Regions from separate parts of the Homo sapiens genome. Here region 1 is linked to region 2. The links come from fine-mapping of genetic effects on gene expression. Tissue or cell type: tibial artery. Region 2 holds a variant in brackets; the other region holds the start of a gene. All regions are shown on one strand. Distances are from middle to middle.

Evidence for each region. PIP is the estimated chance that this variant, and not a neighbour inherited with it, causes the effect.
Region 1: it holds the start of LIF, and the variant in region 2 is fine-mapped to the expression of LIF in tibial artery (GTEx, PIP 0.97). The same link has a PIP of 0.9 or more in monocytes.

The regions. Positions count from the first base shown.
Region 1 is chr22:30,243,953-30,248,987 of GRCh38, reverse strand. LIF (LIF interleukin 6 family cytokine) reads left to right here and starts at 2,229. Exons shown (of 3, transcript NM_002309.5): 1 at 2,229-2,311; 2 at 4,055-4,233; 3 at 4,927-5,035. The coding sequence starts at 2,293. It overlaps LIF-AS2 (LIF antisense RNA 2), which reads right to left and starts at 2,778. Exons shown (of 1, transcript NR_148946.1): 1 at 1,995-2,778. RefSeq lists an enhancer at 3,779-4,279.
Region 2 is chr22:30,193,573-30,198,826 of GRCh38, reverse strand. All of the region lies in intron 1 of LOC105372988 (a long non-coding RNA gene), which reads left to right. It also overlaps a transcript of HORMAD2 not described here. Among named protein-coding and RNA genes, the nearest start is that of LIF-AS1, 43 kb to the left of the region's middle. RefSeq lists an enhancer at 2,342-2,461. The variant G/C (reference allele first, on the strand shown) is at 2,329.

The DNA.
Region 1 (5,035 bases), 50 kb before region 2:
CTGAGGCACTGGAGGGGCCAGTCAGGGCTGGGGTTAAGGGGCCTTAGTGTCAGTGTCTTCTAGACCCTGTCCTCACTTCCTGTTTCCTGTGGGGTGGGGCTGAGATTAAACAGCGATTGGGGGTGGATTATAGGGCTGATGTGGGGTCTGGCTTGCCAGAAGGCATGCAAGGGCCTGGGGGTCCGCTTGGAAGGATGCAGGGGAGACTGGGCAGAATGGTAGATGTAGGGGCAGCTGCAGAACTCTTGAGCCTAATGAGAGACTCAGGCCGGGCGACGGGGGTTTGATGGGTGGAGGCCACAGTGAGCCCCTGGTCACATGGATTTGGGGTCCATGTCAGGAGAGCCAGGCTGAGTCAGGTGGCAGGGGTCTGGGTGATGTGGGATGGGACTGGGGACTGGTCCAGAGCTCACGTGCTCTGAGTGGTCAGGTCCTTGTGCAGGAGATGCTGGGGGAGGTGTAAGAAGAAGGGTTGAGCTGGGGTGTCCTGGGATGTGGGGTTACCTGAGCCAGGCCAGGGCAGGTGAGTCTCCTAGTAGTGTACGCTGACCCCAGAGCAAGTGTATAGGAGCAGTAAGTGCCAAGTGGGGCCCTCCATGGTCCCTCAAAGAAGAGACAAGGTGTGGGGTGAGAGGCAGGAAGGAGGAAGGAGAGCCAGTTCGGGAAGTGCCAGCTGGGATGGGCAGTTTTATCACCTCACATCCGAGGCCCTGCTGGGAGAGAATGGGGGGCAAGAGCGTAGATAAAGCAGGGTGTGTGTGTGGTGGGGAACGGCAGCAGGCACCAGGGCTCGTCCTGGCACGATGAAGGAGGAACCCGTGGCTGGGCAGGTCTGGGATGTGGCAAGAGGCAGGAACTGGGGGCATGGAGGATGGGCGAGGGGGCGGTGGGGGCCCGGGCGAGGCTGCAAGAGCTCCCTGGCCTTGGAAAACCAACTCACACACCTTGATCTCAGGTCAGGGTCAGGCGGAAGGGCTGGGAAGGGGCCACAGGGGACTAAATCATCTCCTGGTACTGGGGGTCCCCTGGCAGCTTTAGGGACGGCATGGCCCCAGACGCGTGGCCATGCTGTCTGGCCGGCATTCCCGCATCTCATAGGGTGTATTTATTTTCACTTTTCTGTTGCATTTCTTGGAGGTGTCCCTGTGCTCATTTTGCCCGGCTCCCCACTGCTCCTTTCTGCCCTTCCTCATTCACAAATCGCCTGGCCTCAGAAGACGCCAGAACATGTGACACTGCCTTAGAGCCTCTAGAAGCACTTTTTGGGGACCTCCATCATTCTCTGAGGCTGGGCTCAAAGGGGCTTCCAAGGCAGGTCTGGAAGGGACCAGCCACTTCTCAGTTTCCCCAACCATCAATCAGCACCCGGAGGAGGAAACTGGGGTACGATTTCGCCAAGCCTCTCTCAGTCCTGCTTCAGAATGGAAATGCTGGACCGCCTTCCCAGAAGCACCTTCCCAGAGTGTCCCGACAGAACTGAGTCAGTCACCCCTACCCCCATGTCTTCCTAGCCCCTTCCCCAGCCTCACAGGTACAGTGGTCAGCAGGGCGAGTGCACTGGTGGTGTCTGGAGGCCTGACCCTCTGGGGCCCTGGGCAACGTGTTCCCCTCGGAGCCCCTTGGGGCCCAGTGGCAATGTGCAGATTGGAGGAGGCTACCTCTGGGGTGGCTTCCAGCGCCCATGTTCAGTTCCACTTTATGACCGTCTAAAGTCCACGCCGGCCCCGGCCCCTCCTCCTGGAGCCTCCTTCTCAGCCAAGCCCTAGCCCTCCTCCTCCCACTGCCCCCCTAAAGCCCCCCAACCAGGGGGCACAGGGGCCAGTCTCCATCTGCTAGTCCAGACTCGCTACCTCCCCAAACCCAGGTGAGTCAGGGCCGTCTGGGGCGCCCACTGCTGGGACCCCTGCTGACTCGGCCAGGGGCCCCCTCCTGGCGATGCCCATCTTCAGACAACTCCCGGGACAAGCCAGGCAGGAAAACCACAGGGCGTTTTGTCGAAGGCTTCATTATAATTTTATCAATCAAATTCTTAGAAGAGGGAAAAAGTCTGTTCTCCCCACCCTCCCCCCTCACTCGTCCCCCCCCTTCACTCTCACTTTCTTCCATTCATAATTTCCTATGATGCACCTCAAACAACTTCCTGGACTGGGGATCCCGGCTAAATATAGCTGTTTCTGTCTTACAACACAGGCTCCAGTATATAAATCAGGCAAATTCCCCATTTGAGCATGAACCTCTGAAAACTGCCGGCATCTGAGGTTTCCTCCAAGGCCCTCTGAAGTGCAGCCCATAATGAAGGTCTTGGCGGCAGGTAAATACACCCGCCCCGCGCCGGCTTCGCGTCCCCGCTGCGGGGCGCGGCGGCAACTTGGGGCGCTTGGCAGCGCGAGCCGGACGCCCACCCGCCGCAGACACACGAACACTTGGGGCGCCCGCGCAGCCACCGGAGGCGCTGGGTGGCGGCCCGGAGCGAGCGCGGGCACATGGTCCCAAGCACCGCACGCCCCGCGGCAGGTTGGCGGCGAGGGAGGGGGCGCCGAGCCTTCCTCCTCCTCCTCTTCTTCCCCCTCTCCTTCTCCTCCTCCTCCTCCTCGCTCCGGACACTCGCTGGCTGCTCTTCCCTCTGCGCTTTCTCCCAGATTCACTCTCCCTCTCTCTTTTTCTTTTCTTTCTTTCTTTCCGCTTTCTCCTTTCCAACCGCGGTCCCGGGCTGCTCCCAGGGAGGGGCGCGGGCGGCGAGCAGCTTGCAAACTCCGGCCTGGGACGGGAGCAGGTGCCGCCTCCATCTGCTGGTGTCTGGAAGCGTGTGGTCTGCGCTAGGTGAGATATAGGGGTGTGGCCCCCCTCCCGCAGCCACCCCGGGGCCTCAGCACTGCCTTGGGATGCTGGGACGAACAGGGGACCCAGGAGAAGTGAACTTGAGGAGGCCCCTGTCCCCGCTGTTCCAGCATGGGGGATCCGGGGGAGGTCTCCAGCCTCACTCGCCCGCTGACCCCGGCCCCCACCATCTTCAGGTGCCCTTCTGCAGAGCCCTGGAAAAGCGTCTAAGGGGGCCTGGGGGGAGTCGGGAGAACAGGCCCCCCTGGGGGAGGGGCAAACCAGGACATGTCGGGACAGCTCCCAGCTCTCCTGTCACCTTTCACTTTCCTTCCTCCCCGCCCACCCGACTGCCTATGACCTTTTGCCTTTTCTCTCTCCTGGTGCACCATTTCCTCTCCCTCCCTGAGCCGGTGTGTGTGTGTTAGGAGGGAGGGGAACCCCTGGGACAAGGGACAGCGGATGAGTCGGGAGAAGGCATGGAGTCAGGGGCTGTCCGGAGCTGGGGGAACAGAGAGTTTTGAATGATGATTTGGGGATGGAGAGTGGGGACAGCCAGGCAGAAATGGGGTGAGCTTGAGTGAGATAGGGGACACTAGGGAAGGAAGAGATAGAGGATGATGGGGGCGGGGGCAGAATTGGGGGCAATTGGCCCAGGGAGCCAGAATCAAGTGGCAGGTTTGGGAGGGAGATGAGGGTCAACCGAGGACTCCTCCCCACTCCCCCATGCCCCGTGGCCCCCATGGGTGCCTGGCTTCGGAGATTTGGGCTGCAATGGGCCAGTGAGTGGGAAGCGCTGCTGAGGAACCTGGGCCACCACGGGAGGTGGGAAGAGAGGGGTCTCCTTTCTCCTGGTGCCTGCTGGGCCTGGGGCCTGGTGCCTTCCAGCCAGAGGGCCAGGGGGCCTTAGGACCTTTGCCTTCCTGAGGGAAAGGGTGGGATGGCTGGGAGTCTCTCCTGGACCCTGCACCCTTTGGGTGGAAATGGCTTGTGTCTTGCCCTCATCTTTACGTCATCCCAGAAGAGAGCAGGGAGAACTAAGGTAGAGAAAGGGAGACAGAGAAACACACGCAGTGACAGAGTGAAGACTAGGCCCCAGGAAGACAGCTGCAGGTGGTGAGGGGGAACCAGGAGTCCTCTCCCATGCGGCCATTGTTGGACCCCCATCCGGTGTGCCATGACCCCAGGCCACCCTTTCCTGCCTTTCTACTCATGGCTTCTTCCTGACTGTCCCCAGGAGTTGTGCCCCTGCTGTTGGTTCTGCACTGGAAACATGGGGCGGGGAGCCCCCTCCCCATCACCCCTGTCAACGCCACCTGTGCCATACGCCACCCATGTCACAACAACCTCATGAACCAGATCAGGAGCCAACTGGCACAGCTCAATGGCAGTGCCAATGCCCTCTTTATTCTCTATGTAAGTTACCCCTGGGATACTGACAGGAGATGGCAGGGAGGGGGCTTGTAAATATCATTAGGGGCTGTCCTGATCTGGGTTGAGGGGACCTTTTGGGGCTGGAAGGAGAGAATGGGGAGAGGGCTTGATTAAACCACCCCCAGACTCCCGCCACTTCCTGCCCAAGCTTCCCCAGGGAAGCTTCCCCAGGGTGCCCAGTTAGCAAGGGGAGAACTGAGTGCAAAGGTGGGGACCTGGCACTTCTTATCTTGTGATTGTCCTGCTGCAGGGAGCGAGGGATGGAGGGGAAATGGGCGTGAGGCACCAGGGAGATGCGGTTGAGAGGCAGTGGGCTGTGGGTGCTGGGCATGGAGGGGCGTCCCGGAACATTGTGAGTGCAGGGATGGAAGTACTTGTGTGTGGTGCCCCAGCTAGGGCTAGACACCGAGTTTTCCCTTCTGTCCCCTTAGGGTGGTGATGATGATGATGATGATAATGATGACTGCGTGCATGGCTCAGTCTTTGATCTTTAGCAAGGGCACTCACATTACAATTAGTTTTGGCTCTCATGACAATTCCAGATGCTTACAGGGCAAGGAGTTGGGTCCTCATGCGCTAGATGGGGAAACAGACGCAAGAGCTTGCCCAAAGGGTTGGCGGCAGGGCTGGGACACTGACCCCTGACTCCCACGTCACCTCCCTTCTGCCCCTCAGTACACAGCCCAGGGGGAGCCGTTCCCCAACAACCTGGACAAGCTATGTGGCCCCAACGTGACGGACTTCCCGCCCTTCCACGCCAACGGCACGGAGAAGGCCAAGCTGG
Region 2 (5,254 bases):
TCATTTTTATTGAGTAGGAAGTAATTTAAAATGTGAATTATACCTGAGGCCATTTTAGGAAGAACTTTTTTGCCATGGTATAGTCACAGGGAAGCCAGATCCCAGATGCTGAAGTGTGGGGTGAAGCGAGGATGAGGACCAGGGAGATGAGAGAATCACCAGTGCCCAAGTGAGAGGATATTGTGCAAGGAGCTGGCAAATGTGGCTCAATTTTACAGAGCAGTGGAGGGAGAAGACTGCATTAGGGGCTGGCCTAGTTCAGTGGATGGTGACCTGGACACACATTATAATCAGCTGGAGAGCTTTAAAAAAAAAAAAGATCTGTGCTCAGATCCCAGGCCAGCCCAGTTAAATCCGAACCTCTGGGGGAGACACTCAGGCATTCAGGTATCTGTGTGTTGTGGATGAATCTCTACAGGTGACTGTAATGTGAAAGCAGCTCTGAGAACAGAGCTCCGGCCACAAGCAAGGCTGCTACTTCTTGCTTAGTTATACCTGACCTGGTGCAAATAAAATCACAATCACACACTTACATGCGTATACACATATACAAGTGTGTAAAACTCTGGTTAATGTTGCAATTTTAAACAAATAAATCTTTAGCATATTTACTGTCAGGGATCATCCTTGACTCTTCCTATTTTTTTGAGACAGAGCAAGTGTTGCCCGGGCTGGGGTGCAGTGGCTCGATCTCGGCTCACTGCAACCTTCGCCTCCCGGGTTCAAGTGATTCTCCTGCCTCAGCTTCTGGAGTAGCTGGGATTACCAGTGTGCACCACATGCCCAGCTAAATTTTTTTTTTAATATATTTTTAGTAGAGACAGATTTTACCATGTTGCCTAGGCTGGTCTTGAACTCCTGACCTCAAGTGATCCACCCACCTTGGCCTCCCAAAGTTATGGGATTACAGACCTGAGCCACCTGCCCAGCCCATCCTTGACTCTTCATCATTGTTGATGAAGCTGTGTGTGGAAGGCAATGGTGATGGGAATTCAACCTTAGACTAATCTCTAGGTCTACATGTGCAGTGGTTGACTTGATTTTTTTTTTTTAACTCATTATTGGTATCTTTTCAGATGTGTAGGAAAAAAGATTCTGGATATACAAACCAAATAAACTAGGGCTTCCTCATCTTACTGAGTTGGTGTCTCTGTCATTTCCCTAGTTGTTGTCCATAACTGGTTTCCTTTGACTAAAGTAATTGTATCTGAGATTATTCTCCCTTTGAAGATCTCTCAGCCAATCTTGTTGCTGAGGGCATCAGAAGAAGATTGAGAGGGTTATACTTGTGCCTTTTTTAAAGGGTTTGCCTACAGAGTGTGGTGTGAGATGTGGGGGAGCCCACAAGGATTTTTCTAGAAGTTTCTATCCTCAGAGATTTGCTCTAACAGAGGGTAGGGTCATGGTTCTGAATTAGGCATCCTCTTGCTCATGCTGGTTAATCTGATACATTTGGACTTCAGAGTCCTATCCTTATGCCACAAATGTGGGCTAGTCACCCACTTTTTCCTTGTGATATATCCCAAGGAAGAAAAGCATCATAAGATTTAGAGATGGGGCTTCCCTCTCTGTGATTAAAAAAAAAACCTAGGTCCAGTTCAGAATGAAGAAACTGAAAAGAGAAAATCCAACCCTTTTCACATCCAACCCCACCCTGTCCCTGGGTGGCCCTTACTTAACCCATCACCCAGCACTCCCTCTAGGGAAAAGCCTGCCCAAAAACTTTGGTCCTAAGAAAAGCCTTACCCTAATAAAGAAACTGGGAGGCTGCTGCTGGGCTGCAGCTGCTTTTATGGAAGGAGCTAGACCAGAAGCTAGACTAGGGCCAACAAGTCAGGCCTCTGTAAGAATCTTCCAAGGAGGTAAGGCGGGGAGAAAAAGGATTCCTCATTTACATTGAGAGTAAACTTCCTGTCCTATTAAACAATGAGGCATTCAAAATCCGCCTGAGTAAAAGTCCCCTGATGCAATGAGAGGGTGAGCAATTTCATGTCAGGCTGTTGTTATGGGATTTATACATGTCCTAGCTAGGGCTTGAGGTGAAAGTCAGAGCCAAAAACAATAGCCCTAAACCCCACATGCACAGAAACCTCATTCCAGTGGAGTTTCCTTAAGAGAGCACAGCAGACTTTTCACAAACAAAGTGACTTCAAAGGTAGCCTTGCATCACTGCCTCCTCCACTTGACACTTCCCTTCAGCCCAGACCTGGCCCCTCTGTTTCTTGGTTTAATTTATGAGGTTCTCACACACATTGCAAAGCAATTATCTGAGCTGCTGGCCAACAGGAAGGTAATTGTAACTGAGTACTTCCTTTGTCAAACGCTGAC[G/C]CTGGCCACCGCGATGGTGATGACGCTGGCCATGGCAATGGTGATAGGAGGCGTGCCGGCAGCTCAGCACCCAGTGACAGGATACCTCTGTTTCTCCCCCACCCCCAACACAATGCTGTCTGACTGAATTCTCCAGGGAGGAGGAAGCCAGTGGGTTGGAGGAATGGGGGAATTTTCTTACATCACTTGACGTGCTTGCTTTCACTCGCAAAATCCTGAGTCATGACTGAAGCTGTATTGCCTCAAGTCTCCGGCTGAAACCAGGGGTTATAGGTTTGGAAACCTGATTCCATCGGCTGCCTCTTGTCCAATCATCAGAGGAAATGTGTATTATTTCAGTTGATCCTCTTCAAGTTGAAGTGCCTTTGGATTGAGGGGATTACGTGAGGGAAGTGGCTCTGTAGTGGCTTAGTAAGCCAATGCCATGCGAGTGAACAATATTTGACATTCGGTGAGTTTACAGAAAGGGCAGTCTCTCTGTTTGTTTAAACCAAGATTAAGTGAAAGGAAAAGTTTTTCTTTCCCATCCCAAGACAAATGTGAAACACATGTTTTCCCTTTTGACTTTGTAAGTACAAGGCTCAAACAGTTCTCCCCACCCCCTTCGGCCATGAGTTTTTAAGGATTGCAGAATGTTTCCTCTCTTTGGTGGCCAAAGCCAATGTGAGCCTTTATATTTCCAGACAGTGGAGCTGATGATGATAGCCTAGTTGGTTCCAGGTAATCATGTAGGTTGTTTCTGGGCCTACCATTTTATGGGTAGATAGGATGGTAAGATGTAGTACAAGGAATCCCAGGCCTGAGTTCACTAAGCCTCAGTTTCCTCATCTACAAAATGAGATTGGTTGAACCTTAAATATCTCAGGTAATTTCTATCTTCAGAAAGGATGTTCATTCAGGTTGGTTTTTCTGGTATGTGGGGGACATTCCTAGTTGAGGTATCCTTTGCATGGGCACAAGGCAGTGTGCAGGCCTGAGGGTTGGGAGACCTCAGTCAAAGAGCCTGCCCTGCCATTGACTCACTGTGACCTTGAACAACTCACTTCCCCTCTTTGTGAATCCTTCTTATCTGAGAGAGGAGGTTTGACAGTCTTGCCCCTGACATAGCGGTTCAGATATGAGACAAGCCTGAATGAGACTGGGATGTCAAGTACTTTGAGCTCCTTGAAATGAAAGGATCATTCATCTTGGAAGATAAATTGTTAAAAAATGCTAGCTCATAACTATTTTTTTGGATTATCTCAAAAATAAAGTAAAGAAAATCAATGTTGTTTACTCTTGGTTTTCCTTTTTTTTTTTTTTTTTTGAGACGGAGTCTCGCTCTGTCACCCAGGCTGGAGTGCAATGGCGCAATCTCAGCTCACTGCAACCTTTGCCTTCCGGGTTCAAGCAATTCTCTTGCCTCAGCCTCCTGAGTAGCTGGGACTACAGGCACGTGCCACCATGCCCGGCTAATTTTTTTGTATTTTTAGTAGTGATGGGGTTTCGCTGTGTTAGCCAGGATGGTCTCGATCTCCTGACCTCATAATCCACCCGCCTCGGCCTCCCAAAGTGCTGGGATTACAGGCGTGAGCCACTGTGCCCGGCCCACTCTTGGTTTTCTTTAAATTGCTACTGGTTCAGGGAATATAAGCACCCAATGACCAACACGGGCTATAAAAATCAGGACTTTTACCACCCTGTGTTGGCCAAAGCAATGTTCCTAGCAGATTGCTTTGATCATGTTGCTACTCTGCTCAGAAACCTTCAAGATACTACTTGCCTCCAGGATACACTCCAAACTGACAGTCAGTTCCCCGTTGTGACCTGGCTTCACCTGCATTATATATCACCTCTTCTACATGAAATCCTAGAATTCACTAGCATTGCCACAATGATATTGGATCACCCCTGCAACATCTCATAAGTGGGTGGCCATTCTCTGGGTGCAGTGATAGGGAGAAGCCTCTGATACTCAAAGTAATCTGGCCTTTTTCTAATCACCCCTCATTGTTAGATACTTCTTCCCTATATTGAATGAGAATCTGCTTCATCACAAATCCCAACCAGCCATAGGTCCCACTGAGCTACCCCAATTCAGTTTCATTCCTCTTCTTCAATTTTTGAAGACAGTTATCATGTCACCCTGGAGAAATCTCTTTTCCAGACTAAACAACTGTAATGTCTTTAACAGATTTTTCATTGACTTGGTTTTCAGACTCCTAAATGTTGTTATTGTTACCTTTCCCTAGACATGCTTCAGATGGTCAATGTCTCTTTTAAAAACGTGAACCTTTGGACTAAATGCAACGCTCTAAATGTGGACTGGTTGGTGGCGCTAGTATCTCCTTTGTTTCTGTAATAGTTAGGTTAGGTAAGAGACATGACAATACTTCAGTGGCTTAAAGAATATAGAATCTTTTTTCTCTCAAGTAACCATCTTGAGAGTTGAGTGATGATGAGTGAGATGAGTGATCCAAGCAGGCAAGGGGCTGTATTCTCTGCAGTCATTCAGTGACCAAGGCCCCTTCTGACTGGGGATCTGCTATTCCATGTGGTGTTCTGGTATAAGCTGGGTTACTACCAAGCCTCAGATGCATCCAGCAAGAAAAGGAAAGTGTGAAGGGTAGGGGGGGTTCACCCACCTCTTAAGGGCCCCAGCTGTCACAGAAGATCTTTTGTTAGCATTCCACTCATGAAAACTCAGTCCCATGGCCATGTTCAACTGCAAGGGAAGCTGGGAAATATACTACAGCCAGGTAGCCCTGTGTCAGAAGCCCTATCGCTATGGAAGGACAGGAGAATGGACATTGGCAGCCACAGTGGGGACCAGCCTCATTGGTCTTTCAGTTCCAAAAACACATCAAGTTCCTTTCAGACTCAGGGCCTATGCACTCACTGTCCTGCTTGGAGTGTTTTGTCTCTCTGACTGTCCTTCCTCTTCATA